2 separate regions of the Homo sapiens genome follow, and region 1 is linked to region 2. A link means that fine-mapping ties the variant in region 2 to the plasma level of a protein whose gene starts in the linked region. Region 2 holds a variant in brackets. A gene starts in the other region. All regions are shown on their reverse strands.

Region 1 (14,726 bases), not on the chromosome of region 2:
TGGGAAGGGCGAGCCGGGGCCCGGGGGCCAGCGTGGTGGGCGCGAGGGAGCCACACAGCGCCGCGCCGCACGGACACACAACACGCTCGGTGACACCGGGGACACACAACACGGGCGAGCGGCCGCGGCTGGAGCAACAAAGGAGCCGAGGACCGAGAAGTTGCGGGCCGGAGAGGGAGGGCGCGTGCGGGCGTGTTGTGGCTGTGGCGGGCGTGAGGGTGTGCGCGCCGTGTGTGCGCGTGTGTGTCTTTTCTGTGTGTGTTTGTGTGTCTCTGTGTGTGTGTCTGTGCGCGCGCGCGGCGGCTGACACCGGCGGGCCGGGGCTCAGGGTCCCCGCGGCAGAAAGCGGCGGCCGCGGGGGCGGCAGCAGGAGGACAACGCAGGGGACGCCGCGCCCAGCGCACCCGGTCCCTCCATATGGAAGAAGCTTTTTGGATGACTGAACTCGCAAACAATTCCTTCTTTTGCTTCTCCTGCCTAGGAGCCTCCCATTACCGTGCGAGGAGGAGGAGGAGGAGGGAGTGGAGGAGGCTGGGAGGAGGGGGAGGAGCAAAATGGAGCAAAGAAAAAGTCTTGGAAAGGAAGCTGGAAAAAGTCCCCCAAACTCTAGGGCAGTTTTCCCGTTAACACCCACTTTTTGCTGTGCCTCAGACCCGCGCTCTCCTCCAACTTCTTTTGCTTTCCCATACCAAAAGCACCATCTTCTCCCTTTTCCCCGAACCCAGGGGGCTCCCCTGAAGCCTTCACTTTCTCTTTAGCTTCACCTCGCACCCTTGCTCTTCCATGTACAATCCTTCCCTCCTTTCGCCTAGTCTCTTCCAAGACTTTCCTGACACCCACCTCTCAATGGTCTTCTTCTTCTGCAAGACAAACTGTTGGATAAATCATTAAAAGCAAACTCATCAGAAAATGGGACAGCGGCGGTGGAGAAAATGATAAGGAAACCAATCTCAGGGAAGCCTTAACGCAGCCTCCCCCGACCCCCTCGGTCGGTTGGGGAGGGTTTGCCGCGTCGTCCATTGACAGCGCCCTGACCTCCATTCATCATCCCAGGATGGAGCCAGGGAGGAATGGGGAGGGAGAGCTGGGGCTGGGGTTGGGGGCATGGGTTGGGGGTGCTAGTGGCCACGGAAAAGTTAGTTACCTATGCGTGTGTATGTGTACGCGCACGCGCGCGTGTGTGTTGGTCAGAAAACTTTCAGAGCTGTGGTTCTCAAACTTGATCTGCAGCAGGACTCCCTGGAAGGCTTGCTAAATCCCTTTGCTGGGCCCCACCTCCAGAGTTTCTGATTCAGTAGGTGGACCTGGGAATTTGCATTTCAAATAGGTTCCCAGGTGATGCTGATGCTGCAGGTCAGGGGCCACGTTTTAAAAACTACCTTTCCAGGGCAGTGAGAAGGCAAATGTTGAGTTGGTGGCAAATTGGATTCCCTTCTTATTTTTTAGGAATGAAGCACAGGTTGTGAGCGGTCATCCATTCCGTATCTTCATTGCAGCTGAGAAAACCAAGTCCCAGCAGGGCTAAGCCATTTGTTTAAAGTGAACTGGGAGTTTGTGCCAAGCTGGTGAGGAAGCTGTCCTGGAAATAAGACAGCCAGGCTAGTAGTAGGGTGAATGGGGGTGCTGCCTTCCCTGTGTGGCTGGACAGCTGCACTGGGAGTCAGGAAGCCACTGTGACTTTGGAAAGTCACTTAACTTTTCTGGGCCTCTGGGGGTTTTGTGTGTGTGTGTGTGTGTGTGTGTGTGTGTGTGTGTGTGTGTGTGTGTGTTTGTTTGTTTGTTTGTTTTTTGACAGAGTCTCACTCTGTCGCCCAGGCTAGAGTGTAGTGGTGCAATCTCGGCTCACTGCAAAGTCTGCCTCCTGAATTCGAGAGATTCTCCAGTGTCAGCCTCCCAAGCAGCTGGGATTACAAGCACCTGCCACCATGCGCGGCTAATTTTTGTATTTTTAGTAGAGACGGAGTTTCACCATGTTGTCCAGGCTGGTCTTGAACACCTAGCCTCAAGTGATCTGCCCACCTTGGCCTCCCAAAGTGCTAAAATTACAGGCGTGAGCCACCTCACCCGGCCCTGTTTTGTTTTTTATTAACTTGTTTCTTGTCAGTAAACATACATACTTTACACTGAGTATAGGACTCTAATTGAATCTGAACCAAAAGACCTTTACAAAGGAAACATAAATGTATTTTATTCCATATTTTGCACTATTTTTTCTCCGGTATTTAGTCATTCAGGCAGAAGCCAATTTCCTTTTTGATTTATCGAGTACTTTCAGCTCTGTGCCTGGATTCTTAGGCATGTTCCTCTGGCAAAATGGATCTGGAGGATGATGCATTTTCAGCAAGAAGGTGAAAAGGACTCTGAACTCTCTCTGTGCATTATCCACCTACATTTCCTTTTCCTACTTAATCATCCTAATTTTCCTTCCCTTTTAATCTCTAACAATCTCCCCCAACATTCTCAAAGACCTATTTTTCTTTCCAGTCATTGACTATATTAGCTTCCACTTTCTTTTGTCCTCCTTCCAAGGCACAATTCTGGACTACAAGGCCTGGGGTCCACCCTGGGTACAGAACTTTTAATTCCCCCAAGGGAATGGGTCAACCAGCTTCCTCTGCAGTGATAACACTCCTTCTCCCCAGGGACCCAAGCAGCGTATCCAGCCTTCTGTTTTTCAAAGATGATTCCAAGTACCGCTCAATGAGAACGTGATGCATGAAGGTCTCAGATTCATTCTTTTATATTCCTGTATATACTATTCGTTGCTTGACATCTCAAAGATATCTTCTACCCCTTCTGTCATCTTTCTCCTAGGACTCTCCATTCTCTTACTCTGGTCTTTGGGTCCACACAGCCCTAGGCTCTGAGTTAAGCATCAGAACACAACAGAACACAAAGAATGTAACAGTCCCTACCAGCACCATTTAGTCAGGAGAATGACACACTGCCTTGTTCCTTCATGCATGCAGGCTGCTCACCTTTCTTTCTTTCCTTTTTTTTTTAAGATGGAGTCTGGCTCTCTCACCCAGGCTGGAGTGCGGTGGCATGATCTCAGCTCACTGCAACCTCCACCTCCCCGATTCAAGCGATTCTCCCTGCCTCAGCCTCCCGTGTAGCTGGGATTACAGGTGCCTGCCACCACGCCAGGCTAATTTTTTTTTTTTAAGTAGAGACGGGGTTTCACCATGTTGGACAGGCTGGTCTCGAACTCCTGACCTCAGGTGATCAGCCCGCCTCAGCCTCCCAAAGTGCTGGGGTTACAGGCATGAGCCACTGCTCCCGGCCTGCTGCTCACCTTTCTTATAGTTTAGGCAGAATGCAGATCACAGCTTAATAAAGAGGACTTAATTCTGCTGGCGGCATCAAGCACACTGTTGGTACCTCAGATATGTTTATTGTTTTTATTGCTCTTTGTATTAATGTGATTGTGTTTATTACTACTAGTCCTGTAAGAACAACGTATCTGAATTTTCTCCCCACTCCATTTTGCCTGGAGGGTATTTCTTGCCTAATTCCCTCCTCCCCTTTCAATTAGTTTCTCTATCTTAACCCACCCCAACCCATTCCAGCATCTCTAGCCATTTCAAAACAGTTAGGTGGAGTCTGGATCTTGTAAGGTGCTTTTTGCTACTGTCCGTTCTGTTGATGGTGATTTACCTCTAGCACCTTGCTTTCTTGGAAATGTTATGGGCCTCCACCAAGAAGGAAGCATTTGGTATGGAAGTGATCATCACATTAATTTAAATGCTTGGTCGGGGGAAGGAGTGGGGAGGTGAGTAGGGATTGTAGGTCTATATAAGTCACTATGTTGCTAGGCTGTGCAGAATAAACTGGAAGGAATTCAGTGAATGACATGAAAAGACGTGGTTTCCTCTCAGTGTGCTGTAGATACTCTACCTGTATCATATAAACAGGGATCTCTTTGACTGTGAAAGATATCTGGAGAGGATTATGCTGAGAAAATTATTAAGATGTAGACAAGAAAGAAGGACTTGATGATGTTTTCCTCTGTTTTAATATAAATCTGCTTTCCTGATTATAAAATATGTGCACTGACAAAAATTTAGAAAATGTAGAAAAACACATAAAAGAAGAAAATCAACTTAAAGTTACTACCCAGGGATAACATTGTTATTAACATAGTGGAGTGTTTTTTCTAGTCATTTTTCTTTCTTGTTTTTGTTTCTCATCAATACAAATAAACACGTTATCGACACTGAGTATATGATTCTAATTGAATCAGAATTGAAAGACATTTAAAGGGAAACATAATTGGGGTGAGTTTATTCAATATTTTATACAATTTTTAATGCATCTGGTAATTCAGGCAGGAGCCAGCTTCTTCATTGATTTATCTGGTACTTTCATATTTTACAAATTTGGGTTCATTGTACATACAGGTTATCATGCTTTTAAATTTAACATTTTAATGATTATTTTCCCCATATGTAATCTTCAAAATTTGACTTAACTGCTGTGTACTATCCCATCAAAGAGAGAGATTGTTATTTATTCAACCATTCTTCTATTGTTACATATTTAGATCGTTTCCATTTTTATTATCATCCTGTATTGCAGTTGACTAAACATCTAGCTATAAATCTTTTTGTTCTGATTATTTCCTAAGGGTAAATTCATGTAAGTAGGAGTTTGGGATCAATGGATAGGATATAACATTTTAAATGCTTTTAGTTGGTATTACAAAATTGTCCTCCAGTGGTTCCAATGTACATTTCCATCTCTCAGATTATTTTAATTAAAAACAACAATGAGATCATCAAACACAAGGTCCCAAGTGAAGACTTGATTGAATTATCTAGTCTGAATGATTACACTGAACAATAAAGAAAACAACTGCCAAATATTCACTTTAGTGGAAACAACACTCCAATGGGAAGAGCTGGGCACTAATTGCTTACCCTATGAACTGCATCATATTTATGATTTTATTTAACCTTTTCAACAAGCCTCTGAGAAATAAGCTAATGTTTATTGAGCACCTTCCTCTCCCAGTTTCTCTCCTGGATTCTGTGTGTACCTTCCATCTTGAATCCCCATAATGACCTTGTGCTATATAGGTGCAATTATCTCCATTTTATAGATAAGGAAAATTAAATAACATGCCTGAGATCCCCAACAACTAAATGGTGGTAAGAATTCCAAACCCAAGATTTTTCCAGTGAAACACACTACTTCACAACTATTTCATGAATTGCAGGCTACTTCTTGCAGTAAAAAAAAACTGTTTAGAAAATGCCCAAATTTTGTCTAGCCATTAAGAAGTATTTTATGGGCTTTCCAAGGAGTGTTTTTCTTTTTTCGAAAGAGACATTCAAGTGCATTCCAAGAACTAAGGTAACTTACTAATTGTAACTAATGTAAGAGTCTAAGGATATTATATACAGGAAGAGAATGGAGTTCTGATGTATGGGTTAAGATTAAAAATGACATACCGGCCAGGTGCGGTGACTCACGCCTGTAACCCCAGCACTTTGGGAGGCTGAGGGGGGCGGATCACGAGGTCAGGAGTTTTGAGACCAGCCTGACCAACATGGTGAAACCCCATCTCTACTAAAAATGCAAAAATTAGCCAGGCGTGGTGGCGCATGCCTATAATCCCTGCTACTCAGGAGGCTGAGGCAGAAGAGTCGCTTGAACCCGGGAGGCGGGAGGTTGCAGTGGGTTGAGATCGTGCCACTGCACTCCAGCCTGGGCAATAGAGCGAGACTCCATCTCAAAAACAAAAAAAAAACAAATAAACGAGATACCAAAATTCACAGTTTTAACAATATTAGTAAATTGGCTTTTGTACACATAACTATTCTCAAAAGCTTATATTTGGATAAAGACATTTTATCTTGATAAATGATACTGGAAATGAGATATTCATGAACCCAACTTTCTGCTTTAAAATTCAAGCTGTTGAGTGTATAAAGTGTCTATTTATTAAGGCAATATCTCAGTACAATTTCAAGATGCATAACATAATCCATTAATTTATAATTAGGAAAATTAGCCCTCATTTGCTCTTGACTGGACCATTAACTAGTTATCTGAGTTGGCTTACCGTTCTATGCTGGGTATTGCAAGGGCTGCTGGAGAAGAAATATGCCCAGTTGCTCTAAAATATTTGTTGACTGAAGGAAGAATGATGAATGAAAGTATAAGATTGACCTATGCAACAATTAGTAGAAACAATGCAAGACAGCGTATAATTAAACCCTAAATTGCATGGTTCAGGCAGAACTACAGGTGAGCCTGGTATGATGCCATCTATTCCTTATACAAGTTGAACTGGCTGGGACTGACTTCTCTAGCCCCAGGCTGTCAACTCAGGCATTCCTACTGGCTATATGTTCCGTTGACTTTTAGGAATTAATCACCAGATCCCCACAAGGCTCCCTATGGACAAGTGTACCCCAGGGGGAGAATGATATTTTATTTATTTATTTAGAGACAGGGTCTCACTCTGTCTTCCAGGCTGGAGTGCAGTGGTGTGATCTTGGCTCACTGCAACCTCTGCCTCAGCCACCTGAGTAGCTGGGATTACAGGCGCACACCACCATGCCCAGTTGATTTTTTTTTTTTTTTTGACAGTGTCTTGCTCTGTCACCCAGGCTGGAGTGCAGTTGTGTGATCTCGGCTCACTGCAAGCTCCGCCTCCCGGTTCACGCCATTCTCCTGCCTCAGCCTCTGGAGTAGCTGGGACTACAGGTGCCTGCTACCAGGCCGGCTAATTTTTTGTATTTTTAGTAGAGACAGTGTTTCTCCAAGTTGGCCTGGCTGGTCTCGAACTCCTGGGCTCAACTGGTCCACCTGCCTCGTCCTCCGAAAGTGCTAGGACTACAGGCGTGAGCCATTGTGCTTGGCCGAGGATGAGATTTTTAAAAAAAGAATATTGTGGCATCAAGACAAACCTGGGTTTGAATCCAGTCTTAAATAAGCTGCATGAGCTTAGACAAATTAATTACATCCCTAAACCCTAGTTTCTGTGAATATTGGAAATAATATATATGTACTATTTCTCTCTCTATATATACACATATATATGTATACACATATATATACACATACACATATATATATGTGTATATATGTATATATAAACCCTTGGTAGGCACTCAATAAATGGAGGGAAAATTAGTAAAAGTTTGAGTGAGAGGTGAAGCTGGGTTAGAGAAATGAAAAATAGAATAGTCCAAGGCCACTTCTGTGTGCTTGATTTTGCAAAGCCCTAGACAAATAGAATCTATTGACACTGAATTCCACGTGAGACCACTTTTCCAAGATATCAGATTCTCTAAAGCAAGCACAGCCCCCTTTCGTCCTCCATGACACCCCCACCTTCCTCATCTCCCGCCATCTGTTCTTCCCCCATCCCTTCACTTGTTAGGCTGAGACAGTTGGATTCTGGTGCTGCCCAGACTCCAGCTGTTTGACATTGTGCAGTGACGGCAGCAAAGAGGGCAGGGGCGCAAGATTCCAGATGAAAGCAAAAACTCAAAGAGAACTGGATCTCAGAGCTTTGATACTAAACTCAGTGGATAACAGCCTCCGTTAAATTTGTTCAGTCAGCCATTTAAGGGGGAAGAAGTTTCTCACACATCTTGTAAGGGTTTTTAGCAATGAGATGCTTCCATGGAGGGGAATCCATATTCTGGGGACTGAGCTGGGCAGAATCTAATGCCAAAGCTGCCACTGCAAGCTTTGAGGCAGGTATTATGCCATCTTGTTTTGTTCTACATGTGTTATTTTCTTTCTCCTTCATAAGATACCTGCGATTCTCTGAGACTTTTGGCCACAGCATCAGGAAACCTAACTATGCCTGACCCTACTCCACCTTACCCCACTTCTTCAAGTCCTCCACTCACAAGCAGAATTTAACAGGGAGGCCCAAGCTGCTCTGCAGTTCTGGTCATGGAGGGAAGGTTGACCGGCCTCCCTGGACAGTGGTTGGAAGCTCTCTGTGGACCTGCAGGCAGAGCCATGAGGAAGGGAGAGGAATTGACAAGAATATAGATTCTGGGGCTGGTGGTGTTGTAGAAGCCTCCCTGCCACCTCTCTCATTGAGAATCAGAAAACAGCTGTATATTCTTTGCCTTTTATTTGTTGAATTCATCAACTAGAAAATGGAATTGTTAGAGGCTTGGTGGTCCCAATACCTTGCATGTGAAACTGTGCCTGAGATAAGGAACGACTAAGAAAGTTAATCTCACAGTTCACTGATTCCTAATTATTTAAAAAGCAATATCTATAGGCCTTGTCCTTGTTTATTCAGGAGAGATGAAGATGGGATCATTCATGTCCTTGCCTTTCTTTGATGGCTCCCCACTTCCTTTGATATAAGGCACAAGTGCTCCCTGCTCCATGGTCTGGTCCAGCTCAACTCCCCAGGCTGGCTCCTCAGGGCCCCACTAAACTGTATCTTGTGCTCCAGTATCTCCTTGCCCTTCCTCAAAGCACCACAATTTATCATGCTTTCCAGCCTGCCCACTTTATTTCCTTCTGACTTATTTCCTTTCTCCTCTTTTCCACTCATTAAACTCCTACTTACCCTTTAAGAATTTTCTCTAACATCATCTCTTCTAGGAAGACTTACTCAAACCTTCCCTTCCTAACTCGGATTGCCCTCTAATGAAACCCTTTTTTGCCTTTGCCTGGCATCTACCATGAGCATTGTAATTATAATTGTGGATCTGTCTGTCTTCTTGCTGGAATATCCTCAACTACAAAGGCAATCTGTTTCATCTTTGTATTCTCAGGTTTGGCATGATGCCTGGCACATGGTGGATGCCCAATATATAAATATATCAAGTGGATGAAGAATTAACAAAATCAAGTATCCCTATTGTAGCACGGATATATATTAAAGCCTAATGGATCTACATGGTCTGTAATGTTGAAGGAATACCAATAACTAATACGGGGCCTGGGGTGGAACCACAGGTTTACAACTAAATACCGGGCCCTTGCCTAAAGCAGGTGAAGCCTGGTTTGTCTTAGCTATAAAGCTGTCTGTACACAGTATTTTGCATTTAGATGCTAATGGTATGTTTGAAATGATAGCGTATGACTGACTTTGTTTTTTAGTTTTTATTTGAGATAATTATAGAGTCACGAGTTGTAAGAAACAATACAGAGAGAGTCTCTATGCCTTTCATCCAGTTCCCCCGACAATAGCACAATAGCTAACCTAACTATAGTACAATATCTTAAACAAATGACATTGATAAACTCATCAGCCATATTCATATTTTGCCAGTTTTACATGCACACCTATTTGTGAGTGGTTTTATGTTTTCAAACTAATTTGTGGACCTAAAGCAGTCTATGGATTCAATACAACCTCTTTCAAAATCCCAATGGCATTTTTTTTTTTACAGAAATAGAACCATCTTAAAAGTCATATGGAATCTCGAGAAACCCTGACTAGCCAAAAGAATCTTGAAAAAGAACAAAGTCAGAAGGCTCACATTCCCGGCCTTCAAAACACATTACAAAGCAATAGCAGTTAAGGCGATGCTGTATTATCATAAAGATACATATATAGACCAATGCAGTAGAATAGATAGCCTAAAAACAAACCATCTTATATGTGGCTGAATGATTTTCAACAAGGGTGCCAAGACTACACTATGGGGAAAGGACAGTCTCTTCATCAAATGGTGATGGGAAAATTGGATGTCCACATGTAAAAGAATGAAGTTGGACACTTACCTTACACCATTACAAAAAATTAACTCAAAGTTATTAAAGACCTGAAACTAAGACCTAAAACTATTAAGCTCCTAGAAGAAAACATAGAAGAAAAGCTACAGGACATTAGATTTAGCAACAATTTCTTGATTATGACATTGAGAAGATAGGGAATAAAATTTAAAAATAGGTAAAGGGGACTACATCAAATTTAAAAACTTCTGCACAACAAAGGAAACAATTGACAGAATGAAAAGCAGCCTACAGATTGGTAGAAAATAATTGCAAGTCATATATCTGATAAGGGATTAATATCCAGAATATCTAAGAAACTTTAACTCAACAACAAAAAACCAAATAACCTGATTTAAAAGTGGACAAAAGATTTGAGTAGGCATTTACCCAAAGAAGATATGTAAACAGTCAATAAGCATATGAAAAGATGATCAACATCACTAATAATTAGGGAAATGCAAATCAAAGCCACAATGCAATATTACAAGTTGGCAACTCTCAAAAAAAAAAAAAAAAGAACCCAAATTAAGTGTTGATGAGGATGTAGAGAAATTGGAACCCTTGCACACTGTTGATGGGAATTCAAAGTGGTGCAGCCATTAAGGAAAACAGTATGGAGGTTCCTCAAAATATTAAAAATAGAACTACTGTATGATCCAGCAATCCCATTTCTGGGTATATATCCAAAAGAATTGAAATCAGGATCTTGAAAAAGAATTAAAATCAGGATCTTGACTAGATAGCTGTACTCCCATGTTCACTGTAGCACTAACTGCAGCACTATTCACAATAACCAAGAGGTAGAAGCAACCCAGATGTCCATAGACAGATGAGTGGATAAAGAAGATGTGATATAACCATGCAAAAATGGAATATTATGCAGCCTTAAAAAAGAAGGAAATCCTTTCACATGCTACAACATGGGTTAATCGGAAGGACATTATGCTGACAAAATGAACCAGTCACAAAAGGACAAATACTATATGGTCCCACTCATATGAAGCATCTAAAGTAGTCAGAATCAAAGAGACAGAAAGTAGAAAGGTGGTTATCAAGGACTGGGGATAGGGTATAGGGAGAAGTAGTTTTTAGGGGGATTAGGGTTTCAGTGTTGCAAGATAAAAATGTTCTAGAGATCTATTGCATAATAATGTGAATATATTTAACACACTGAACCATACACTTAAAAATGGTTAAGTTGACAAATTTAATGATACATTTTTTACTGCAATAAAAAAATGATTTGTAACTTATTGTATAGGTGCAGACCATCCCCAGAATGGCCACAGTCGATAAGAATCTGGATCATGCTCACTTGACCCCATAAAAGAAGGACTTGAGTCTCTCCCAGAAAGCTTATAGCAATAGAATTCATCCCTGACCTGGTCTCTGCTTTACACCCTCTTTGACCTCACTGTAGAATGTCTTATTCCTCTTTTGATGGGACAAGAAAGGATCTCATTTCCTGAAAGATACATATGAGTTAGAATAATTCCATCCACCCTTTTTTTTGTCATCAGCCAACACCAAGAGTTGCTTACATGATTCACAGGGTGTAAAATAAAAATGCAGGGTCCCAGAAGGAGTAGAGAAGTCAATCTCCATTTCTCATAACCCACAGAGGAGAGGTGACCCCCAAGGGATTGTAACCTCCAGACTGAGACATGCTAAGGGGTGGACTAGAGGTCCCTGCCAAGTCACTGGCTGAACATGCCTGAGAGCTGACAGCTTAGGGTGGGAGCAACCACTGCCTTGCCCTTTTTTTGAGGAGAATGGGGTACATGCCTTATCCTGAACCTCCTCATGGTTACACCCAGGACCCTGCCAAGTGGCAGAGGGTGACTGAGGTCATGGAGTGGGGGTGGGAAGGGAGAGATCAGAGGAGGCTAGGGCACCAGGGGGCAAGGGAGTGAGAGGTTGAGAACCTGTCCCAGGGAGGAGAGAGGCAGGGGCAGGCAGGGGCAGGCAGGACCACACATGAGCTGAGGCTCCAAACCCCCAGTGAATGCTCTATTATCTCATAGAATTTCACTTTCAAAATATAAATTCAAAGATAAGTTCATTAAAAATTTCACAATGGTATCCCCAGAAATTAAAATTGAGTGCAGGACCCTTCTGAGTGCAAGGCTCTGTGCAACTGCATTGGCTGCACAACTCATGACCCTGCTGGACACACCAAACTCAAAGCTATCTGAAATTGTAATCCTCTACACTCCTTGGGACTGGGATCCTCTCCTTTCTTCTCCAGTGTGGCCTAGGAATGATGGGAATGAACAGTGAAACTTTCTTATATTTGACCCCTCCTCAATGAATTTGTGTAATATTAGCAAAGCCCTACTTATTTAGAAGAAAAACAATGTGCTTATCTCACCATGTCTGATGTTTAAAAACAAAATAGTCTTAAACAGCCTGAGTAACAACAGGATTATCTAGCTGTCTGAGAGAGAAACTTGGGAATCATTCTTGACACCTTCTTTCTCTTCATTCTTCACAGGTAATTGTCATCACTACCTCCTATAGTGCCACATCCTAGATCTCTCCAGAATCCATTACCTGAGCTCAGTCTCTTCTGCAATTGTCCTAGTCCAGACCTTCATCATTTCTTACATGGAATATTACAAAAGCCTCTTGATTAATCTCCCTGCCTCCCCTCTGCCTCCCTCACTGGTCCATTTGCACATTCCTAATGGAGACATCTTTAGAAATGGCAACTTTGATCATGTCATATACTTACCCCTAAAATTATTCATTGATATCATTGACCACTTTTAGAATGAAATCAAACTCCTTAGCAAAGTACACTAACCCTTTCATACTGATCTCTGGTAAGTACTGCCCCAGTGTGGTCTCCAACCATTTCCCTACCTGACTCCATTCCTTTCCTCACTGTACAGAACTTCTTAGGAATGTTCCAGGATATTTAGTCTGTAGGCCTTTGTGTATGTGGGGCTCTTACTTAGCTAGTTAGTTCCTCTGACTTCTTTGCCCACTGGACCTTCCCAGCATGAGGGATGACTATTACCCGAGGACCCCTATCACTTGGTGTTTACCCTTATCAAAGCACTCTCTGCACTGATCTATAATTATTTCAGGCTATCACGTTTCTCAGTTGGGGGGATGCTGTTTCCATGTGGTGTATCTTCAATTTTCCTGACCTGCTGTGAAACCCATGGGGAGGGCCTGGGTCTTAATAATCATTGTAATTCTAATGCCTTGAAAAACTTCTGGAATATGGTAGGCAATAGGTAGATGTTTGCTGCAGAAAAGAGAGAGAAAGGGAGGAAGAACCGACCAGCTGCCACCTGTAACACTTCTTTTTTTCCTAGCCCTTGAGATTTCACACATCCTCCCTCACCAGTTAGTTGATGTCTTAAGAGTCGATATAGATTGGCGGCACAGCCAATGTAATTGATTATGCAGACACAGTTGCTTAGGTGATAGAAAGTAATGATTTGACCAAATTTGAGTGGTGGCTTTATACAGACATAGCTCAGCTCCTCCTGTTCATGTGAAACGCAGAGACGCAGAACTTTGCTTCCTCACAAATAACCAGTTCAAAAGATTACCACAGGCACTTTGAAAAATAAGTGGAAGTGGCTAAAGATCTACAAGAAAAAGTTCCAGTTTTATGGACATAGAAAAACAACTTAAAATTGTATAACATACATTTGTCAAAACCCATAGAACTATACTCCTCCAAGAGAAAATTTTACTGTATGTAAATTTTTAATAACAATCAGAATAGGGGGAGGGGACTCAAAATGGAATTCAAACTGTAACAATTAAATCCAACTGTATTACAAATTATTAACATAACTGTAATTTAGGGAGCGGAGAAGAAAAAAAACTAAGTTACTTCGGAAAACAGTATTTTGACTGGATACTGTGAGGCTAAACAACTACTATACTCTAGTTAGTAAACTTATGTCTCACAGGAGTATTGATTAGCAATTCTGAAACTACTTTGTGTGTATACTACAGTTGAACTAATAATTAAATACATCATCAATAATGAAAGCCAAATTTCTCACTATCCGAGAAAAAAGTTACAAATAGGGAAAGGGAAAAGGCTAGAATGAATTCTGGTGTCATATTGGAGTCAGAGATATCGGTATGAATTCATGGTTTTAAAAATATATATACAAAAAATACAGACTTATGTATGTACCTAGTACAATCCTAGTATTCATACATATATTTCCTAGTTCTGTCTATGGAGAGGAGTTAAAAACAATGACACCCCAGTAGCAGTGAGCACACCCAGCACTCAAATCTTGGTTTCTACATACTATTCTCCAGTGAAAAAAGAAATAAGGATACTTGGAAAAGTGTTTGATTCCAGGGCTGGGGCAGGAAAAATGAGCCAGGAGTATTTCGTGATGCCGAAAAAGTAAGGAAGTACTCAAAAAATGATGGGGGCAGCTATTGAAAGGGTAAAGGAGCCCAGCTGTAGCCAAAGAACAACAGTAAAATAAGTAGCAACTGTATTGGATTATAACCCATAGAACACAATAAATATTCAGGAATCCATACTGATGTAAATAAATAATTGGATAAATAAATAAAATAGAATGGCAACTCTTCCTTAAAGGAGACTTTCAAATAATAAATGTAGAAGGAGTTAGGGAAGTAGAAAATATTTATTAGAATACTACAGCAGTAATTTTTCAAGATCCATTGATTAATGCTAAAATTAGTAGTCTCAAAAGATCACCCCCAAGATATTTATTAATCACAAAGCTGAAAAAAGAATTATCTTTATGACAAAGAAACCCAAAAGATACCACCTTAACCGCATGACCAATGTTAACATCACTAGTAATAAGACATATTAGCCAGGCTTGGTGGCATGCACCTGTAGTCCCAGCTATTTGGGAAGCTGAAGCAGGAGGACTGCTTGAGCTCAGGAGTTCAAGGTTACAGGGAGCCACGATCATGTTGTTGCACTCCAGACTGGGCAACAGAGTGAGATCCTGTCTCTGAAAACAAAAAAAGAAACAATAACAATAACAACA
Region 2 (15,214 bases):
GAGACCTAGTGAATCTATAGCTTCATACTGGGAGGTAGTGGAGATCCCTGCAGGGGCATGGGCAGTGAGATGGGACAGAATTCCAAAGAGGACTAAGAAGGGCCTGATCTTTTCCAAGAGCCAGCTGGAGACCCCTAAGTGCGCCAGACCGGCAGGCCCCAGTGAAGGTCTTCCTGTTCCTCCCCCCAGCTCCTGGCAGGGTTGCAGCACCTCCGCCTGACCAGTCCAGAGGACTCTAAGGAAGTAGTTCTGCCTGGGGCAGTTGTACTGTGGCCCAGCCGCCCCAGTCGTGTCCCATGGCTGTCCACTTTCCTCCCCGTGTCACAGGTGGGCTGGCCAGGTGAGAGCTGCTGGCAGGTGGGCCTGGCTGTGGAGGATAGCCCAGCTCTGGGAGCACCGCGGGTGGGAGCCCTCCCTGACGTGGTGCCGGAGGGGACACTACTCAACATGGTGTTGAGAAGGATGCACCGGCCCCGAAGCTGCTCCTACCAGCTGCTGCTGGAGCACCAGCGTCCGAGCTGCATCCAGGGGCTGCGCTGGGTGAGTACCTTTCACCTGCCCAGGTGCCAGGGCCAGTACCAGAGCTAGAGGGGGGCCTAGATCATGGCTTGGCATGCTGCTGGTGGCCCAGCTTGCTCTGGGGGTGTACAGTGGTACAGCTGCCGTGGACACTGGGTCAGGAAGCTTGTCTGCAGTGTGCGTGGGTGGCTCACACAGCTGCAACGTGTGTGTGTCTGTGTGTGTGTTCTGCCCAAATGTCTCTGTTTGGGCATGGGGGGAAGGGGAAAGGGATTTGTTGTTTATCTGTCACCTCAGTGAGCCGGCATTGAGTTAGGTACTTGTGTGTTCTTTCCAGGTGGAGGTGGGAGGTATGGGGGCCGGGTCAATGGGTTGGAGTGAGGTAAGCTTGGTTACAGTTCTGGGTGCATCACCGTGGCAACATTCTCCTTTAGTGAGTTACTGAACTGTGCTAATTCTGCGTTTTGGTCTTAGGGTGAGGTGATCATGTGGACACTGCTTGGTACCTGCCTTTGGGGGGCTCAGGGAAGGATTCTGAGACATTTGGAGAATCTGAGATCACCAAAGTGCCCTTTGCTAGTGAGAAACATCTCTGGACCTGAAAGAATGAAGGAGAGAGCAGGGAGGGGAAAGAATGGTGGGATTTGGGAGGCAAGATAATGGCTGTACTATCCAAATCAGCAGAGAAGCTATCCCCAACCATCCAGACTAAATAGAGTAGCTTAGCTTGAGATTCAGTTATGTCTCCACTGCGTGTGTCCACCCAGGTTTCGCTATGTTGCCTAGGTAGGTCTTGAACTCCTAGGCCCAAGCAATCCACCTGCCTTGGCCTCCCAAAGTGCTGGTATTACAGGCGTGACCCACTGCGCTTGGCCGGGAGAGTTCATTTCTTTTTTCTTTTCTTTCTTTTTTTTTTTTTTAACCAGAGTCTTCCTCTGTCACCAGGCTGGAGTGCAGTGAAGCAATCTTGGCTCACTACAGCCTCTGCCTCCCAGGTTCAAGTGATTCTCCTGCCTCAGCTTCCTGAGTAGCTGGGGCTACAGGTGTGCGCCACCACGCCCAGCTAATTTTTGTATTTTTAGTAGAGATGGGGTTTCACCATATTGGCCAGGATGGTCTTGATCGCTTGACCTCGTGATCTGCCCACCTCGCCCTCCCAAAGCACTGGGATTACAAGCATGAGCCATTGCGCCTAGCCGAGAGTTCACTTCTTATTGGCAAGTCCTTTTGAGTGGAATAACCACCACCCTCTCCCTCCTTCCCCCTACCTTGCCCAACTGCCATTTACAGTGAGGCTGAGTTGAAAAAACTGAGACCTACCAAGATGAGGGGCTCCTCTTTGCAATCAGAATTGAGAGGAGAGTCCACATGTCAGTCCTGGTAGAGCTGTTCTCTACTAGGGTCTTCCTTATCATGAGCCTGGGTCCTCCTCCGCTACCCCTCTGGCTCTCCGGCTCTCCGCTCTCCGGGTCACTGGCTGTAGCTATTGCCTGGAGCCAGTGGGCTGGAACCCTCCCTCCCTCCTTCCCTCTTGGGCTATAATTATTTGTGCATTTCCTGTCCCCTTCCCAGCTTGTGGAAGCAAGGTAGGGGGTAGGGAGAAGGTCAGGTGCCAGGACAATAGGTCACTGGAGGATCTCCTGGGACCTGAAGTCTGGGAGGGAGTGGAGGAGGCCACCAAGCTGTCTCCTGACTCTCCACAGCCCCCAGAAATGAAGGGCTGGTGTGCAGGGGAAGGCCAGAAAGGTGGGGGTAAAGGTTGCTGGAGTGTAAATGGGGTCAAAGGCACCAAAACAAGGCCTTTCCGTGCCAGGTGGGCGTTGGTGACTAGAGGGAACTTAGATTTTTAGTGTTTAGAGGCAGGCGGCCACTCCCTCTTCTGATGACCAACTTTGGGGACTGGGGTGGGGAGGTTTCATTCCATCATGCCTATATTTGAGAGGCTCTGGGTACCTGTGAAGCTGTACTTCTTACCTCTTGATGATGCCTTTAGCCCAGGGAAGGCTTCCGTGAGGGAATGAGTGCCAGCTGTGAGCATGCACGCCCATGGTGAAGGGGTGGAGCCCGAGTCCCAGGAAGACAGCACTGCCAGTTATTGAGGCCAGACCTCCCTCTTCGAAAGCCAAGGGGAAAACCCATCAACCTCCCAGAGAAGAAGTCTGAAGACAGCTCTTTCTGTTCCTACCTAGACCAGGACAAGAGAAAATGAAAGCGGGTTACAGTAGGAGGGCTTGCAGTTAGATACAGACTAAGATAAGACTTAACAGCTATTGCAAAAGTGACACTGGAATGGGATGGAAGAACATCTTTGGAAAATAAGAGGGGGAGGTGAGATCTTGTCTGATGTCCGGGGGCAGGGGCAAGATCAGAGTGACCTGTGGTGGGTTCTACTAGCTCAGGGAAGTCTGAGATGATTCTCTTTGTGTGACTGTTCTTGGGGAAGTGGCCCTGTTTTGTAACTCCGAGAACGCACTTTCATTCAACCTATCCAAATAATAGTAGTAGTTAATAGTTATACAGTACTTATGTGCCAGACATTATTGAAAGAGGTTTGCCTTTATCATATCAAATAATTCTCACAACAGCCCTGTGAGATAGGTACTAATGTCATCATCTCCATTTTATAGATGTGAAAACAAAGCCACAGAGAGGTTAAGTGACAGATTCAGAGTTACGCAGCTGCTAAGTGGCAAAGCTGGGCTTTGGTCCCAGGCAATCTGGCTGCAGAGTCCAAGCTCATAACCACATAACCACCATGCTGCACTTCTCTCTTGCTACGAACAGTAACACTGACACCTTAAGGCATCATCCCGGCCCCATGCACCCTTCCCCTGTCCCACCACAAGCAGCCCTAGCTTGACACCTTAGCTATGGCCCAAGGGAACTGGTCTGACAGGTCCCCAGGCTGTCTGGCTCTGTGCCTGTCTCTCCAGCCCAGCTCTGACATTCAGTGACAGGGAGTGAGGGTGGGGCAGGCCACAGTGCTGGTGCCAGGGGAGTTAGTGCCTCCTCTTCCGCCCTGAACCCTTTCTGTTCAGGAATGAGAGTGGGGAGTGGGTGAGGAGGACCTTCACCTTGACTCATATCAGCTGCTTCTTCCCAACTGAGAACCCTGAAACTGACATGACTAGCATTGTATTTTTTTGCACTGTGTCCTGGTAATAGGGCCCATCATGAAATAATAACATCTGATCAAGTCAACTAAACTTACTAAGTAGTTACTATGATCCAGGCACCATTCCAAGTACTTTATATTATTAACTTTTTGATCCTCATAACCCTTTGTGATAGGTACTATTCATATCATCAACCCCAGTTTACAGATGAGGAAACCGAAGCACTGCAAACTTCAGTAATCAGCACGAGCTCACACAACCAGATGGTAACGCAAAAGCTAGGATTTGAACCCAAGCATCTGGCTGCAGAGCCTACACACTTGACCACTGCCCTTGAATAGCAGCCCTCTCTCCGCCCCATCCTAGAAGGTTGGCAGGCACACAAACATCCTGGGGGCACAGAGAGGGTAGAATAACAAACCTGTCTATCTTTGTCTAACCCAGTGGTTTCCAAACTTACTTGCCCACAGAACTTGCCTGAAGGCAGAATACCTCTACTGTCTGTGCCTATAGCACAAAGCTGAGGAAACATGGGAATAGGCATAATGGAAGACGGTAGGGCATAATGCTAAGAGCATGGCCTTTGGAATCAGACATAGGTATGAATCCTGGTGCCCTTATTGACCAACAGTTAGGGCAGGTTATAGAACCTTGGAGCTTTCTTTTCTCTAGCTGTGAAATAGGAAACAAATACCTACCTCTGGGGTCAGCACCAGTAGCAGAGTTATTCAGTAGAATCTTACCTTTCTAAATAGTTGTGTGATCTCTCTGGGCTTTTGCTTTCCTTGTCAAAATGAGAGGGATTCCTTAAAGTCCCTTCCTCAGTGCTCATGGACTAGGGCCATTCTCTGACCTGCATCCTCATCCCCTGGGGGAGGACAGGAAATGACCAACCTGGCCACGTGACCCAGCACCACCCCTCCTAATGTGCCCTCTCCCAAGTCAGAATAATACCAGGAAGGGGGCTGGTGCTGGAGCCTGGGTTGTGGGCTCCAATGGGAGTTGGGGCAGGGACTGGGGCCACCTGGGCATTTTGATATGAACAACAAGTCATTAGCACTCAGGCACTGTTTGTTCCGACACAGGGGGCTGGCTGGGTAGCATTCCTGCCCTTCCTCCCTTCCCTGGCTCCTCCTCCTTCTCATTTCCTGTCGTTAAGTCTCCAGGGCTCTGTGTCTGGCACTGGGCTGGGCCCCATGACCCGGGCAGGGATACCCTTGGGACACCTAGTGACTTCCGCCCAGCCCTGGGCCAGGCGCCTGCACATGCCAGACCTCAGGCCTCTGCTTGGGCACGCAGTGCCAAGATGCCTGTGCCCAGGGCCCTGCCAGCACCAGGACTGGTTGTACTGCAACTCCCCAGCAGGTCCTTTTCAGGGACCTGAAGCCAGATGGGAAGCTAGGAGAGAGGTGGCTGGTGAGGGGAGAGGAAAGGGGCAGGTGGGGTGGGTGTAGGGAGACTGAGAATGGGAGCACTTCTGGGTGGGAACTTGAACTTCTCCACAGCTGTCTGGCTGTCCGAAGTATGCGCAACTGAGTTACACAAGGTACCTCACCTCCAGGCTTTTATTTCCTTGTAAGTGACAGAGGACAGACAATGCCTGCTCTGCCTATTTCACATCTGATCCTATTTTACATGAGATCCAATGAAATCAAGGGGGCGATTGTGCTTTGTAAACTGTAAAGTGCTTTGTAAACTGTAAAGTGAGCCCTTTGAGAGGGCTCGTAGATGGTAGAGCATCCTGTCCAGAGATGTCCACAAACCCCAGATTCTCAGGTGGTAGGAAGAGAAGGGTCGTGAGGGGCTTTCATGGCCATTATTCCAGGGCGTACAGGCCCGGGAGTTCCAAATGGCTTGTTACCAAGGGCAGGGAATCCTTACTAAGCAGTGTTTCCATGATAAAGTGCGTCTTCCTGAGCCAGTCCTGTGTGCCACCAAGGACTTATTCACTCTCGCAGGGCACAGGCTAGCAACATCTCAGAGAAGAAAGACGCTTTCCAGCAAGCAGCCCCACCCTAATGCCTCACAGATGAGTACTAGCTAACATGTGCATACAACTATATGCCAGGCAATGCTTTAAACATTCGATGTGTAGCAACTCATTTAATTCTCCCAAAACCTCATGAGTCGGTATTATTAGTGCTTTGTAGATTTTACAGTTCAGGAGACTCAGGTAGGGAGGGAGAGGTTAAATCATTTGTTTCAGGTCACATCTGCCATCAGTGGGGAAGCAGAGATTTTAATCCAGGAGCCTGGCTCCAGGGTTTGTGTTTTGACAACCAGGCTGATCCGAGGCCCAGAGATGGCAAGACACCTGCTCATGGGCCTGTGGAAGGACACAGAACCTGGCTGGGGATCAGGTCTGTGACCCCAGCCCAGGAGCGGATGTTCCCAGGCCTCCTGAGCTGCTCACATCCTGGCTCCCATCTCCCAGGTCTTCTTATCTCATGTCCTCATGCTCCTTCCAGCTCCCTCACTTCTTTCCCCCAACAGGGGCAGTTCACCTGGGGGCATGGGCACACCTGGGCCCTGAGTAAGCAGAATGGGTGTCTTAGGGCTCTCAACTGTAGGGAGGCAGTCCTTGAGTTGGGTTTGGTGATCAGGATGGCAGGGTGGGAAGAGGCGATGCCCGGGGCACAGGGTGCTGAGTGAATATTTGTTTATTTGCTGAAGGAGTGGCCACATGGATGCATTTGGGGTTGGGGCCTAGGCAAGAGTGGGAGTGATGGGGGAGGGGAGGTATCCAAGAGCTGGGCTTGAAGACCTCACACTGATGTGCACGCTTTCCCTGCTGCCCCCAGACACCACTCACCAACAGCGAGGAGTCCCTGGATTTCAGCGAGAGCCTGGAGCAGGTAGAAGCCTGGGCAGGGTGGAGCTGGGACAGGCAGCACCATGAGGGGTTCAGAGCCTGAACTGCTGTGCCCTTCCTCCCTCTAAGGCCTCCACAGAGCGGGTGCTCAGGGCTGGGAGGCAGCTGCATCGGCATCTGCTGGCCACCTGCCCAAACCTCATCCGAGACCGGAAGTACCACCTTAGGCTCTATCGGTGAGTGGAGGCCCTGCTGCCTCCTTGCCCAGCCTCACTGCTTTCTCTCCGTTCCACTTTATGTCAGGCACCTGGGCCTCACCCTGCTTCTAGCACAGGGACGAACCAGGCTTGGGCCTCAGAGGGTGCCTTTCTAATGCATAGTTCCTCCCTCTCCCTGCCACCCTCCTTCCACTGGCCTGTCCCCTTCTACCTTCCATAGGCAGTGCTGCTCTGGCCGGGAGCTGGTGGATGGGATCTTGGCCCTGGGACTTGGGGTCCATTCCCGGAGCCAAGTTGTGGGAATCTGCCAGGTGCTGCTGGATGAAGGTGCCCTCTGCCATGGTGAGCCCGAGCCCAGGGTGGGGTGCCCCGGGCTGGGCTGGGCAGTGAGGGGGACAGGACAGGGCAGTCCTGGGAAGCAGGCACTACTTGGGGAGTGCTGAGGGGTGGCATCGCAGTGGGGTTTCATACCCACATAGCCTCAATTTCCTCTCCTCCCCCACGCCTGGGCCTCTGCCCCCCAGTGAAACACGACTGGGCCTTCCAGGACCGAGATGCCCAATTCTACCGGTTCCCCGGGCCCGAGCCCGAGCCCGTGAGAACTCATGAGATGGAGGAGGAGTTGGCCGAAGCTGTGGCCCTGCTCTCCCAGCGGGGGCCTGACGCCCTGCTCACTGTGGCACTTCGAAAGCCGTGAGTCAGAATCCCTGCACCCCGTGACCCCAGGCCTCACACAGCACTCAGATTTCACGGTTTCTCAGATTGATCTCTGGGGGCATCCCTTACCTGTTGTGGAGGGAAGGGAACCTGGCTGGCCCAGAAGCCCCTGGCGCTGACTGCCACGGACTCACTGTGTGACCTGGATCCCTCCACACTCCCAAACCCCCCCAAGTCAGTTTCTTCCTCTGTAGATGAGGATGTTGGACCAGGGGGATCTCTGAGGACCCTTCCCACTCAGAGACACAGTTGTGGCTGAAAGCAAGTGGGTTTTGGAAACTGCAGTCCGGTGGGTCCAGGTTCAAATTCCAGCTGGACTGGCTACTGGCTGGGTGACCTTGAGCCTCCTCATGCTAGTTCCTGTTCTGTCAAGTGAGGATGATAGAACCACTCCTTAGGGTTGTTGTGAAACAATGCATGCAAAATGCTCATCACAAGCGCTGCCACATGTGCGCACTCAGTAAAGGTTAGCTGCTGCTGATAACTGTCACTGCTGAGGCACCGTCTGGCACAGGCATCGGCTGGGTGGGTGGAGTGGCTCCCTGCACCTGACGGGCCCACAGTTCACAGTGTGCTCCCATTCCTCCTGTCCCTGCAGCCCAGGTCAGCGCACGGATGAAGAGCTGGACCTCATCTTTGAGGAGCTGCTGCACATCAAGGCTGTGGCCCACCTCTCCAACTCGGTCAGTCCTGCCCCTCCCAGCCCTGCCCCGTACCAGGCATCTTCTCTTCCTGTGACTTCCCTGAAACTCCAACTGCTGGGCCAGAGGGCATTTCTCCACTTCCATCTATGGCTGGAAATTTTCAGTCTGATTTCTTGCCCCCGGCGCTGCCCTGTCTGAAAATCCTTCCGCCTCTCTCAGCCCATTTTCTCCACTTGCTTTGTCTCCTGCTGAATCCTGGGAACACCTGACCTGGCCACATCTTTGTCCCCCAGCACTTGTGTCTTTGGACCTAACCACACCCCTAGCAAAAGCCTGGCTGCTCTGCACATGAACTTGTCGCCACCGACTCTCCTATCTCCACCACACAGGTGAAGCGAGAATTAGCGGCTGTTCTGCTCTTTGAACCACACAGCAAGGCAGGGACCGTGTGTAAGTCCAGCAGGGCATAAGAAGCCAGGCACAGGGCCTGGACATGGGCAGAAGGATGTGTGAAGGAATGGTAGGTGCCAGGAGGGCCCGGTCTGAGGTATGCTTCTGTCAGTGTTCAGCCAGGGGGACAAGGGCACTTCGTGGTACATTATCTGGAAGGGATCTGTCAACGTGGTGACCCATGGCAAGGTGAGCCCTCCCTCCTCCCCACCCCAGTGCCCTGGGTCCTAACTGCTCCCTGGTCCATGTCCTCATGGGCAGTGCCTTTGTTGATCTACTGCTGCTGACCCCGTGTCTCCTGTGTGGGTTGTTCTCCTGCCGTGGGTCTGTCCTGGCAAGAGCTGGGGGCGGCAGGGGCGGCAGGGGCGGGCTGAGACTGAGGCCTGGCTGCAGGGGC[T/C]GGTGACCACCCTGCATGAGGGAGATGATTTTGGACAGCTGGCTCTGGTGAATGATGCACCCCGGGCAGCCACCATCATCCTGCGAGAAGACAACTGTCATTTCCTGCGTGTGGACAAGCAGGACTTCAACCGTATCATCAAGGTGCTGCTGCTGGGGTTGGGGAGGGCAGGGGCCATTCGTCCAGAGAAGTGATGTGGAGAGAGGAGTAGGGACCAGAGCAGAGGGCCTGTAAGAAGCAGGGCAGGTAAGAGATGCTGGGCTATGACAGCTGGCAGTGGGACCATAGCCCTGGGTGTGTGTGAGAAGGTGAAGCCCATAAGGCACAGAAGGAGTTCAGTGAGACCAGTGACTTCAGGCTCAGTGTGGGAGACCAGGGGAAGGATGGGCATGCAGGGGGCGGGGGACTAGGCTGTGGGGGAGGCAGGATGCATGGAAGGTAGGGAAGGCTGAGGAGGTGGAGCCAAAGTCGGAGGTGGGAGAAGGGCTGTGGGTCCCTGTGGGACCCTCATGGGGCTCAGGGGCTGGAATGAAGGAGGTAGATGAGAGGGTCTAAAGCTGGAACATCATGAGTTGAGCATGGGATGTGGCCTGTTCTCCAGGATGTGGAGGCAAAGACCATGCGGCTGGAAGAACATGGCAAAGTGGTGCTGGTGCTGGAGAGAGCCTCTCAGGGCGCCGGCCCTTCCCGACCCCCAACCCCAGGCAGGAACCGGTAATACACCTGCCATGCTCCCTCTCCACACTGTCCCTCCTTTCATTTCCCAATCTTTGCTCCCTTCCCCTGTGTCATATCCCTGCCCTCTGGCCACTTGTGGATGGAGAGGTATTGAGGGACCAGGATGTGCCTGCTGAGCCAGTCTCCTCCCTGCCCTAAGGTGGGACAGGGCTGGCTAATGGAGAAAAATGATGTAATTGATTATTGATGTCTGCCCAGGTGTGGGAGTGGGGAGTAGTGGCACCAGTGCCAAAGATTGGCCATTTCTGCTAGGTATACAGTGATGTCTGGCACCCCAGAGAAGATCCTAGAGCTTCTGTTGGAGGCCATGGGACCAGATTCCAGTGCTCATGACCCAACAGGTAAGGGCAAGAGACACCCTGCCTGCTTTCTGACTCATTGGGTGGTCCATGGAGCCTGGGAGAGAGCCAGGTACCCTGCATCTGACGTCACCGAATGCTGGATTGGTCTGTACAGAAGTTGGCAATAAGTCCTCTTACCTGTGCTCTTGGCTTAGTGGGGAGCACTATCACAGGGGCTGGACACTGCTGGGACCTTGCAGGTGGTGGGATGTGGGGAAGGGTCCTTCCAGCTGTCCATACACCTGTGCTCAGCAGACTTGGCCTCTGAAGCCTCCTCCCATCCCCTCACCCTGTCATACAGAGACATTCCTCAGCGACTTCCTCCTGACCCACAGGGTCTTCATGCCCAGCGCCCAACTCTGCGCTGCCCTTCTGCACCAATATCCTTCCAGCTCCAGGGGGATGGTGTGCATGGGGATAGGATGGTGCGTGGGGTTGAGAGAAAATCTCACCAGCGTGGCTGTGCTGAGCCCTTTAAATGCCAGCCTGCTGCCAGGCCCAGCTTGCCAGGGGCCCTGGGCATCCTGCCCCTCCTTTGCCTCAGGTGGGTGGCCCTGCTTGGATGTTGTGGTTCCCTTGACTGGTGCCCACCTTCCATGTGGAGCCTGCGGGTGGCAGCGAGCAGGAGCGCAGCACCTACGTCTGCAACAAGAGGCAGCAGATCTTGCGGCTGGTCAGCCAGTGGGTGGCCCTGTATGGCTCCATGCTCCACACTGACCCTGTGGCCACCAGCTTCCTCCAGGTACCTGGGAGTGAGGCACAGCGGGGCTGGGCTGCCCGGGGTGGATGCAGCTACAGCCATCTCAGTGAATCTTGGCTCTTCTTAGAAACTCTCAGACCTGGTGGGCAGGGACACCCGACTCAGCAACCTGCTGAGGGAGCAGTGGCCAGAGAGGCGGCGATGCCACAGGTGATGCTTTGACTCTGTTAATTTGTCATTTCCATAACTGGCAGTGCCATGGGGACCAAGAGCATACGCTCTGGAGTCAAGCACTTGGCTTCAGATCCAGGCTGCACCACTTACTTCAATTCCTTGTTCTTATCAGTCCCCTTGCTGTTCACCCTCACACCACATGTCCCTCCATTCTCATGCATCAGGCACTCATTCATTTATTCATTCTCATATCCTGAGTGCACCTGCTGTTCTCACTTCCTCCATTGGGCATGCATTTATTACCAAATACCCTCAGTGCCAGCTTCTGCCAGTCCCGCCCGGTACATTTCCTAGACTTTACCTTCACCTTTGCAGATATTCCCACGGGAGCAGCTGAGATTCAGGGGGGTTGGGAGCTCATCTGAAACAGCACTTGATCTGAAACCCTGGGTCTGCATCTGCCTTTAACTTTTTCCTTCCCCTCCTGGCCTTGGAAAATCACAAAGTCTGGGGGCCTGGTTTCAAGACCGTGTTCTCCCCTCTTTATGTGATACTTACCTGGTCGTGCTTACCTCTGAACCACTGGTGAGGGCCGGGGAGAATCCAGAGCCCCAAGGGCCTCCCTGCTGCAGCCCCAGGGATACCTGGGCTCACTCACCTCCCTTCTCTCTTGTCTGCAGGTTGGAGAATGGCTGTGGGAATGCATCTCCTCAGATGAAGGTGTCTGCCTGGCCCCAGTTTCTTTCCTCTGCTCCTCCTGGACTGCAGGCCCCTCCTTCGCCCCCTGACCCTGAGGGGCTCTGTGGGCGTGGGAAGCTCTCCTCCCACAGACACACCCTTGGGTCTCTGATAGGTGTTCACGGGGCCCTTGCTGCATGTGGTGCCCTGGGCCAGGCCGTGCCAGGAGGCGCAGAGGCCTAAGGTGGCCTCCCTCCTCGCCCACTCCCTGACTCAATGGGCCTTTTATTCCTTTTGGGAGGTAATTCATGCCCACAGGTAGAGCCTGGGAGATGAGGAATGGTGGCTGGAGTTGGCCCCTGAGGCCCACGGGGCTCCTGGTGGCCAGTGCTGTGGGAGCTCAGAGGAAGGCGAGGCCCCTCCCTGGAAAGTCAGAGGGGGCCCCAGGCCATTCTCAGCTGGGGCTTAAAGGGAAGCAAAGAGGGGATGAGAAGATGTGACTGCAGCCAGGATTTGGTTGAGGAATGGTGGGAGAAAGAACTGGAAAGGTAGATTAGGTTGGTGGTGGGGAGGGCTGCACTGGGAATAAAATCCAGGGGCCTCACCATCCAGCAGGCTCCCCATGGTCCCACCCTACTGTGTGTCCCAGCCCCTGCCTGCTGGAGACTCTTACTGGCTTCTTCTCCTCCGCAGGCGAAGCCCGTTCTCCCCTCAGGGCCTTTGCACTTATCCCTTAGCCTGGAAGGGTCTTTCTCTGGCTCTGCCTGGCAGGATCCTTCTCGTTCTCATCTCAGCCAAATGCTGGGTTCCCAGACAGGCCCCCTCCCGTCTCCCTATCCGGAGCACCCTCCCCTTTCTCCCACCACGCTCTGCCTTGGTGTCCTCTGTGATTTTCTTCAAAGCACTCTCGCCATGTGGAGTTGTTTTCTTTGCCTACTTGCTTTCTGTCCTTTGGTATCTCTCCCATCCCACTGGAGAGTTGACTTCCCTCCTGCGGGCCCCCACCTCCGCTTCTCCTTGCTCACATGCTGCCTGGCTCTTGGCTGACGCTCAGAAACTGATGTGGGCTCACCCTCGCAGGCCGGGCACTGCGCTAGGTGCTGATGCTGCACCTCATTCAACCCTGGCCTGTGGGGCTGCAGTCAGGCAAGGGGCAGAGCAGTTCAACAACCCGTGATGTGCAGTGACACGGGACACTTTCCCTGAATGTGCACTGGAGTCGGCTCTTCCAACTGTAGTCCGCTCCTGAAAACGGGAGGGGAAGAGCCAACTCCAGTGCAGATTCAGGGAAAGTGTCCCGTGTAAGCGACTACTGGAGTTGAGAGCTGCAGGGGGCAAGGGTGGAGGAAGAAGAGGATTCCTGGTGGGCAAACCCAGGAGGAAAGGGAACCCAGGAGGAGGATCCCTGGAGGAGCGAGAGTAAGAGTAGGACCCCAGAGCAGGCAGGAGGTGGGCAGGGCCCCCTGGGCCAAGGACAGGGGTCTGATCTTTGTCCTAAGAGCAGTGCAAACCATTAAAGGGGTTTGAGCCAAGGTTGGCAAAGTCTGATTTGTGTTTTGAATAGGTCAGCTAAAGAGCCTGGGCTTTCTCCAGCAGACAATGGACGCCACTGAAGTCGAGTGCGGGAGCTTCACAGGGCTCTGGTCAGGCAGATTGGAGGAGGAGGGCTGGAGGCACCTGGGAGGGAGGAGGAGGAGCATAGTTGGGCCATTGGAGTAGATAAGGAGTGAGGCCTCGTGGGCAGGTGGAACTGGAGTTAGCCTGGGCAGGGGAGGAGGGGGCACAGAAGACCCACTTCAAAGAAGAATCTTCAAAGCAAGATGACAAGCTACGGAAGTGTGGAGGAGCCTGGAGCTGGGGAGAATGGCTGGGGAACAGAGTGGTCTGGGAGGCAGGATGCAAGGATCCGATGGGTATATGGAGTGTGAGGTAATGGATCATTCATGTGGAAGGATGCAGGGGGTTTTTGAGACCAGGGTTTGGAAGAGAGTTCAGCACTGCTGGTAGTTTTGGGAATCACCCATGTGCAGGCGACACATGAGGCAGTAAGGAACTCTGCAGGGGTCCCTGAGATTTGGAAATGTAGGGAAGAGCAATGGATTGAGGTCCGAACCTGGAGGATCTGCTATACGCAGAGCTGGGAGGAGGGACAGAGTCAGTACCAGAGTCGGAAAAAAGCAGGGTGGGAAGGGGAACCTGAGTCAGGAGACTTGCCTGGCAGGCGCTGCCCTGCCAGCAGAGGCCTGACAGTGGTTTCCATGAACTGCATCCCTGCTGTGGGCTGGGACAGGGCCACTGACACAGTATCGGAGCACAGAGGGGGAAAGGAGCAGGAGGGATTCCAACTCTGCCAGTTAGCAGCTGTGTGGCTTTGGGCATGTTACTTAACCTCTCTGAGCCTCATTTATTTCATCCATAAAATGGAAATAAAAATAATACTTTTGTCAAAGGCGCATTGTGAATATTTAGATCCTCAGAATAATGCCTGGCTTGTAGCAAATGGTAGCTGGAGGAAAAGGAAGAGAAAACCAAAGTCAGCAGCTGAAGGATTTTCATATTAGAACTGCTCTGGACCTATCTGGCAGATGCAGAAGCACACACACACGGAGGGGCATGGATTTGCCCCGCCCTTAGACATGTTGTGTCTTCTCCTGGATCCTTGGTCCCAGGTGCCTTACCTGAGCTCAGGTGAATGTGGCAAGCAGAGCCCTCTGGTGGTGTGAATGCTGTGTGGCGCCCGTGCTCCTGGTGACACAGGGACCTCACAATCCCTCCCTCCACGGTCTCCTCTCATGTCCTCCCAGCCTTATTTTCTCGTTCCTCTTCCTCCCAGGCCCGGAACTTGCCTGTTTGGCTCCCCAACCAGGACGAGCCCCTTCCTGGCAGCAGCTGTGCCATCCAAGTTGGGGATAAAGGTTGGTGGTCTGTGCCGGCTGGGCACAGCCCGACATCTGCACCCTGCTGTCTCTGCCTCTCTTGTCCTGCTGTCGTCACTCTTGACCTCGGTGTGCCTGGGCCAAGGTGGCACGCTGTACTCCTCAGGGTCTGTGTTCCAGGCTGCTGGCTAGATCTGCCTCCTACCTGCCTCTTTTTTGCTCAGGGCCTCCCCACCTGCAGCTCAGCCTCTTGGGGATCCCTCCCACCATTACTGCAATAGCCGCCCTCTCCCTCCTGGGGTGGAGATCAGGCAGCCCTTCCCACAGCTCAGTCTGGTCTCCTCTTCAGTCCCCTATGACATCTGCCGGCCAGACCACTCAGTGTTGACCCTGCAGCTGCCTGTGACAGCCTCCGTGAGAGAGGTGATGGCAGCGTTGGCCCAGGAGGATGGCTGGACCAAGGGGCAGGTGCTGGTGAAGGTCAATTCTGCAGGTGGTGAGTTGTGCCCCTGGATAGACCCCAAGGGAGGGTGGCCCCTCGGATCTGCGCCCAGGTCCCCCAGTCAAGATCATTGTCATCATTGTCATCTTTCTGGTCTTCCTCAGTGTGAATGATGGCTAGCATTAATGGGAGGTGGAGTGCGTCTGTTCGAAGTGCATTTCATGCAGTGTGTAAGAGCATGAGCTCTGGAGCCTGCTGCTTGCATTCGGCACCAGCCCTTTAGCTCACCATCTGTGTGTCCTCTGGCAGGGTACTTCATCCCTCTGTGCTCAGTTTTATCATCCATAAAATGGGAATAGTAGGAGTACTTGCCTCCTGGAGGAATTGTGAGG

Which allele goes with the higher level. Alleles are on the strand shown, and positions count from the first base shown. The strength of an association depends on the size of the effect and on how common the allele is.
As copies of C replace T in region 2, the plasma level of the protein whose gene starts at base 441 in region 1 goes up (weak association).

The links. PIP is the posterior inclusion probability: the model's chance that the variant is causal. Protein levels are from antibody-based Olink assays in UK Biobank. Linkage for the fine-mapping came from a reference panel and not from the study's own genotypes, which makes the PIPs less certain.
Region 1: it holds the start of BOC, and the variant in region 2 is fine-mapped to the plasma level of the BOC protein (UK Biobank, PIP 0.98).

The regions. Positions count from the first base shown.
Region 1 is chr3:113,197,272-113,211,997 of GRCh38, reverse strand. It overlaps BOC (BOC cell adhesion associated, oncogene regulated), which reads right to left and starts at 441. Exons shown (of 20, transcript NM_001378074.1): 1 at 1-441. It overlaps LOC124909486, which reads left to right. Exons shown (of 2, transcript XM_047449436.1): 2 at 1-4,601. The coding sequence ends at 443. RefSeq lists an enhancer at 1-80.
Region 2 is chr12:47,743,192-47,758,405 of GRCh38, reverse strand. RAPGEF3 (Rap guanine nucleotide exchange factor 3) reads left to right here. Exons shown (of 28, transcript NM_001098531.4): 2 at 328-540; 3 at 6,437-6,490; 4 at 6,577-6,683; 5 at 6,886-7,007; 6 at 7,190-7,358; 7 at 7,981-8,065; 8 at 8,416-8,476; 9 at 8,589-8,665; 10 at 8,870-9,016; 11 at 9,475-9,587; 12 at 9,864-9,952; 13 at 10,254-10,332; 14 at 10,544-10,694; 15 at 10,780-10,862; 3 more. It also overlaps a transcript of SLC48A1 not described here. Among named protein-coding and RNA genes, the nearest start is that of RAPGEF3, 8.1 kb to the left of the region's middle. RefSeq lists enhancers at 1-315, 2,529-2,598, 2,629-2,798, 4,626-4,920, 5,405-5,946. The variant T/C (reference allele first, on the strand shown) is at 8,874.